Linked DNA regions of Homo sapiens. The protein of the gene in region 1 interacts with the protein of each later gene in a pairwise test. Each region holds a gene or a part of one and is shown on either strand. Other genes may lie near its edges.

The links. Proteins that work in one complex are often made in the same cells at the same time.
Region 2: the proteins of CLN5 (region 1) and PROM1 interact in a protein complementation assay, tested with the Homo sapiens proteins (one study listed by IntAct).

What each region holds. Positions count from the first base shown.
Region 1 is NC_000013.11:76,998,581-77,002,080, reverse strand, and holds part of CLN5 (bis(monoacylglycero)phosphate synthase CLN5), read right to left. Parts: intron 1,624-3,500; coding exon 1,112-1,623; 3' UTR 1-1,111. UniProt on the Homo sapiens protein: Exhibits palmitoyl protein thioesterase (S-depalmitoylation) activity in vitro and most likely plays a role in protein S-depalmitoylation.
Region 2 is NC_000004.12:16,077,248-16,081,023, forward strand, and holds part of PROM1 (prominin-1 isoform 1 precursor), read right to left. Parts: intron 1,057-3,776; exon of another isoform or gene 1-1,056. UniProt on the Homo sapiens protein: May play a role in cell differentiation, proliferation and apoptosis. Binds cholesterol in cholesterol-containing plasma membrane microdomains and may play a role in the organization of the apical plasma membrane in epithelial cells.

The DNA of each region.
Region 1 (3,500 bases):
TCTTACTGAATGGTGTTTTCTCCTTGAATAGAAACGTGTTCAGTTGATCATCAAATACTTAAAGGACCTTGAAAGCTTGTCTGGCTCTAATTAAAGCACAGCTACTTGGTGATCTTAACAGAAACCTGTCCTCTCTCGGAGAAGTGCAACCTCTTCCACTGCGCTGACAGCTTTGTGGGAAGAGGGAGAACTACAGGAAACAATGAAGAAGTCAGAAGGTGCCTGTTTACCCAAACGTGTCTGCAGCCATGTTCCTGCATACCCCGGTTAGAAGAACCGCTGAAGCACTATGCTATCAGCTTAAAATCTAGGTGACTACAAAACCCTGGAAAGTTTGGCACATAAACTACATTAGGCAAGATCAAGGATGACATTTGTTCTTTGATTAATCATTATCACTGCCATTCAATGTGACCTGCCAAACATACACAACTTACATCTTTACAGCAATCCTAAATCCTAAGATTTAGTGATGTTAGTATGCTTAAAGAACACAAGCCAGTTACTAGCTAGTTCCAAAATCTCAGCCAGAAATATGTGTTAACACTGGATTTGCCACATCTAGAAGCACAATCACTCCAGTTATGGTGTCTAAACGAATGTCTAAAGTTAGGTGAATGGAATGTAATCAGACTATACTAAACTTGGTTCCAAAAGTTATAGAAGTTGTAAAGTTAGTCTAAACTAAAGCACTTAAGTGAAAAAGTGTAACTGCCATATCAGAAAGAAGAGCTCCCACCATGAAAATGTCACTGAATGTATTTTTTATTTTTGAAGGTATTTTTAAAATCTGGGCACACCATATCTATCTGTAGGACCCTGGGTCCAAAGGTCCTACATAACTGATATGAACCATAATTCTCCATATTAACAAAGGCTCGGAAATTGAAACCAAGATCACCTAACTCGCTCACTTTGGCCAATATAGTACGAATTTCAGCTTCTTTACAAGAGAAGAGTCCTGAGATGTTAATATGCAGCAATTCTGCTGATGTGCATTTTAACTTTATGCACCAAGGAAGAAAGGCTAAGGAATTCACAAAAGTAAAATCACCCCCTGAAAAACAGATGCTGGTGATTGGAGAAAAAAGAGCAGTAGAATTAAGGTGTTTTATAAACCAGAGAGTGTTTTGTTTCTGATAGGTAAAGGGATTTCTTCATATGTTATTTTAATAAAAGGGAATTTCATAGGTAAAAACCAATATTCAAAATTATAAAACAAATAGAACTGTTTGTGCACAATCACTGCATCAAAAATTTGCAAGAGACTCAACAGAAATTCTTTAGTTGGCAAATGTGGTTTGAAGGGGTAATAAAATCTTTTTATGGCTAAACCAAGAGTCTTGTTTCCTGTTGGCCCAAAAACAGATGTTTCATTTCCCAGATAAGTAGGTTCTCCACTGTAAAGAAATATTCTTGTATAGTTGGTTTCTATGTTCTTGAACTCTGCTCCAAATTCAGCCAACTTGTTAAAGGTCCTTAACACAAATTTGGAACAGTCGTAGGAATCAAACCATGTCTCTGCCCCCTTTTCTGGGCTGGCTTTTACATTCCATGTCTCATAATAAATTCCTGTTTCATTGTCCTGTTTCACCCACTTTGCCATTTGGTTGAACATGTTTCCTAGTTTAAAAAAACAAAACAAAGTCACCTAGTGAACAAAGCTAATCATGTTAATTTTTTTTTTTTTTTTTTTTAAGACAGGTCTCCCTCTGTTGCCGAGGCTAGAGTGCGGTGGTAACATCACAGCTCACTGCAGCCTTGACCTCCTGGGCTTAAGTGATCCTCCCACCTCGGCCTCCTGAGTAGCTGGGACTACAGGCGCTGGCCACCAAACCCAACTAATTTTTTAATTTTTCTTTTTTTTAATTTGAGACCAGCCTGGGCAACACGGGGTCTTGCTGTATTGCCCAGGCTGGTCTCAAATTCCCAACCTCAAGTGATCCTCCTGCTTCAGCATTCTAAAGCACTGGGATTATAGGTTTGAGCTACCATGGCTGGCCTAATCATATTAATTTTAAGTAAAATGTTCTAACTTGATTAAGACTGGATGCCTGAGTAAACAATGGTTTTGAATTTCCACACCTGCATTTCACAACAGGAATCCAAGCTCAGCCAATTTTATTCCATTCTTCAAGGCACAAGATATTTCTGAATTATAAACATTAGATATAATAGGTGTATAAGGAGAAGTCATCTTACATACTAATTCTATAATCATTTAAGCTATAGTCAAAGCGAAATTATACAAATGCAGAAGCTCTCTTTCTCTACCCAACTCACCAAATCTTGGATTCAGAGGCAAAAGAGAAAAGGAAAGCACAAAAAGAATTGCGAAAGAGGAAAAGCAGAATGGGCAAAGACAGTGTAAGGAAAATGGAGGTGTGGGAAATGTGGAGCTTCACTGTTGCAAAGCATGCTACACATAAAGTATGAATGGCTGCCTGAGGAGCCACTGCTCTAGAAGGCTGGCTATTACTGTTATGAGAACAAGCACCATACCCCATCCACCTTGTGTGTTTGGTACGTTTCTTTCTTCCCTGTACTTGGAGTTGCTGGGATGCTGCTGATGACCTCTCCACCTGCCACGTTAAGTCCTTCCAACAAATCAACTAAACTGGAAATGTTTTAGGCCGAGTTCATACTCCAGGATGGCTAACCCTCTCTTCTACCATCTTGTACTAGACCAGAAGAATCTTTCCAAATATTCAGAAAACACTACTCTGCATGGTTACAACTCTCATCTTGGGCATTTATAATGCCTAATAGAACTGGGCCCCAAACACTGCATCCTGTCACTGTGTGCAAACCTCTTTGGTTACTCCAACTTGAGTCCATAAAATAAATACTTCATGTTCTGTAAAATGAATAGAGTGACTGCCTTTATCAATTTTATGGAATTAAAATTGTAGAACAGAATAAAGCCTGTTGTATTAGAACTGGGGATACTGTTCTTAGCATTCTTCAACTTTCAAATGCCACCACTATCCTTATGAGACAAGAATGCTTCAAAACACTATTTTGTCAATCACAGGATTATTCACAAGGCAAATAAATGACTTAAAAGATTTAAGTACTGGCATATTTTGAACTATTTTACAAAAAATAGTGATCACTTATTCATATGATCATTGACTTTATGTCAGAAGGAAGGATTTTCAGATAACGATGTAGGTGGAAATGGGGAAAGGTGTGAACTGGCCTGGAATGAAAGAAAGAACCGCTAATGATGGACTTTTGTATTGTTGGTATGGTTTAAGGCACATTGATTAGAAAGTAGCAGGAAATATTAGAAAACAACATGGTGCATTCGGCTAACAGATCCTTGTTACATTTAAAAGACCTCAGTTTTATTCCTGATTCTGCTACATCCAGCTCTTTGACCTTGAGAGGCAAGTAAGTCATGTTACCTGGCTGAGCCTCAATTCCTTATTTGCAGAGAATGAGTATCTTATCCTCTCCACTGAACCGTGAGTTAACATACCTCCAAATCATTTGTA
Region 2 (3,776 bases), on another chromosome or scaffold:
GGCTGGAGGTGGGACATGCGGGCAACAATGCTGCTCTGTAAGGCATTGAGATGTTTATGGGTATGCATATCTAAAGCACAGCACTTAATTCTTTACCTTGTCTATGATGCAGAAACCTTTGTTCACGTGTTTATCTGCTGACCTTCTCTCCACTATTATCCTGTGACCCTGCCACATCCCCCTCTCTGAGAAACACCCAAGAATGATCAATAAATACTAAGGGAACTCAGAGGCCAGGATGGATCCTCCGTACGCTGAACGCTGGTCCCCTGGGCCCCCTTATTTCTTTCTCTATACTTTGTCTCTGTGTCTTTTTCTTTTCCAAGTCTCTCGTTCCACCTAACGAGAAACACCCACAGGTGTGGAGGGGCAACCCACCCCTTCAATTAACCATGCGGCCAAGAGTCAAACCCACTAGTTTGCCTTCAAAGTCCAAGATCTAACTATGACATCAAGACACTGTCCCTTCAGTGCCCTCCCTCTCAGGCTCTAGTACGAGCCACTGGGGCCCCAGCAATCCAGTACATGCTTATATGCTTATTTCTTCTCCAAGTGTGTGTTGTTCTCTTTGCCGCTGGAGATATATCTTACTCTGCCTTATATTCTACTTATTTACTCACTAATCTCATTTCAAACATCCCCCTCTCCACCTCACCCCGAATCCAAAGTAGAAGGGCATGGCCTCAAGTCTAGGGACCACACCGTTTGAGGCTGGACACATGTGCAACACTGGAACCTGTCTTTCTAATAAGCTTACCAAGTAATCCTGATGGAAATCTTCACCCTAAGTCACCACCTCTACAACTAGGGGTCTCAGAGATGAAAGCCAGGGCAGAGGGAGACTCTTACCTACCCCTTGGGAGACGGAGAAAGACACAAGAATCCTAAAAGCAGCTGTGGCTCCAGCATCTGGGAAGGGAATGGGACAGAAAGTGCCTCCAAGATGGACTCTGTCCTACTCTTCTTTCAATCCCCAGACCTTAACACTGGGCATGGCACGTAGTCGGTGTTTAGTAAGTGCCTGCTGAGCAGCTTGTTTCACTCATGGCACCATCCCTGGCAGGGAAAGAAATAGCAGCAGAGTCACCAATGCATGTAACCTGCCTGCAGCAAGAAGTGCCCCAGACAGGAGGCTGCAAAGCTTTAGAGCAGGGCCTTCAGCCTAATCCAGGTAGGTGGGTGGAAACCAAACACAGCCTGCTCCAGAGCTACAGGGCAAGTGCTGGCGTAGAAGCCAAAATATGTTATTTCCTTGTGCGGTTTCATGAGACTAGGCAAATCAGCACAGAACCTGGAAGGATCCCAAGTGTACCACTCTTCCTCTCTGTATTAAGTGTCCTGGAGCAAGAGCAAGCTGCTGTCACTTTGTGAGCTAGATACATACTTACTAACTTTCAAGATAAGTACAGGGTGCTCCTGAAACACATACTGTAAGAAAGGGAAGGGGGATGATGAAGAAGGTGACATACTTTGCAAGAAGCCAGAGGACCCACTACCAATATTCCAAGTCAAAGAAAGCTTTGGACAACAGATGGGATTTCTTGAGCTATTTGAACAAAGATGTTAATTCATATCTAATCCCTCCATTGCCTCATCTTCTAAGTCCTGTCCCACTCCAATTACTCCTGCACAAAGCTACCAATACAAGGGCCCCAAATTCTTCCTTTGTCAAATCATGGGCTGCTCAGATCCCAAGTGGCTGCCAGTACTAACCTCAGGCCCACGCTTCAGGTTACGCCCACCGTCACATCCACAATAGACACCTTGACCCTGGTGTTTCCAAAGGGCTCCCTTCAAACATCTACTGCAAGCACAACACACCACATGTACACTTTATCTTGGTTTTTTTTTTTGCTAAAGGACAGGCAGAGAGCTAAGCCTCCAGCACAGCAGCTGGAAGGATTAAAGGCTCAGATGCTGAGAAGGCCCACTTTCTGGTAATTCCACCAAACCTCAGCCCAGGACAGAGAGAAACTGCCAAGGGAAGAACTATGAACAAACAGGCTCTCCAACTCCCTCAGTGACAAAGCAGGGGAAGGGAAATTCCCAGTGAAGTGAAACATAACTGCTCACCGCAGCAAAGATGGGAGACAATGACTTGAGATAGACAGCAACTGCAGTTGCACTTCCAGATTTCTTTACATCTTGCTCCAAAATGTAGGTCCCTCTGAAGTTTTAAAGTACATTTTAAGAAAGTATTAATATCTCACTAACTATGAAATACTAGAAACTGATTAAAGTCAAGTCAAAGAGGAAGAGTTTTTTATCTCGGGTTTAATAGGTTGTGCCAAAAACAGAAGCTCTGAGTATTTACCAGCTAAACCCCACTAGGTCCGAGAGCCACTGAGAGTAGCATCTGTCTCGGGATAAAATGGGGTGTTTAGTTGAAATGCAGACTATTAATGGACCTAATTTCTGGGATGAAACCCATTAATCTGCATTTTTAACAAGCTTTCCTGGGGACTGATCCTTCAAACAAAGTTTGAGAACAGTTCTGTTCCTGGAGTACTCTGATCCTGGAGTACCCGCCTAGTCAATTCATGTCACTTTCCAAGGACACTTCAGGCTTCCCAAACACATTGGAAAATAACACATGTAAGGTGAAAGCTCCCCAAATGCCCTTTTCATATTGCTTTGAATTGATCTACCCCAGCTGCTGTGCAGGTCCCTGGCTTATTTCTGTATCCCCAGAGCCTGGAACACAGTTGGTACTCAATGAAGAATTGCTACCAGCCTGGGCAACATAGAGAGGCCCTGTCTCTACAAAAAAAAAAAAAAAAAAAAAAAAAATTTAAATTAGCAAACGTAGTGGTGCACAACTGTAGTCCCAGCTACTCGGAAGTCTGAAGCAGGAGGATTACTTGAGTCCAGGAAGCTGAGCCTGTAGTGAGCCATAATCATACCACTGCACTCCAGCCTGGGCGACCTTACATGATTTTGAGCCTGGAGTCCAGAGAACTGCATTTCAATACTGGTTTAAAAGCAAATATGGCCCGGGCGTGGTGGCTCAAGCCTGTAATCCCAGCATTTTGGGAGGCCGAGGCGGGCGGATCACGAGGTCAGGAGATCGAGACCATCCTGGCTAACATGGTGAAACCCTGTCTCTACTAAAAATACAAAAAAAATTAGCCAGGTGTGGTGGTGCACACCTGTAGTCCCAGCTACTCGGGAGGCTGAGGCAGGAGAATCACTTGAACCCGGGAGGCGGAGGTTGCAGTGACCTGAGATCATGCCACTGCACTCCAGCCTGGGTGACAGAGACTCCATCTCAAAAAAAAAAATTAAAAATGAAAAAGCAAATATGGTGATCAATCACCTTCATTTCTTCTTTTCTTCTTTTGATGGAACTTCTCAGAATCTTTCTTTTTAAAGAAGAGCTTTGTAGTGGATTTTTGTCATCTGGAGTGCTTTTGGCGGGGGCATGGGGGATACCCAACATCTGAGACCACGTTTGTGAGCTGGGTGGGAGGCAGCCCTGCCTTGCATTGTGAGGTCAGCTGAGGCGCCCAAACTGTGTCCTGGTGGAGCTGAGCCATGCTGGGCCAATCAGAAGCTTTCTTCTGGGCCTGGGCCTGCGCACTCTGAAGCAGGACAGTATCTAATTCATTCCAGCAATGATGGCAGCAATGCCAGTAGCCACATCCAGGGTCCTGTTCTGGCAGCCGCAGCCACCCACCCATCAGGGGTCCTGTGGCATGTCCTAGATTCCTAAGCCTGGCTAGCCAGCCTTGCTGCCACTTACCTAAGCCACCCAGGGACCATCCTTTCAAGAAGTC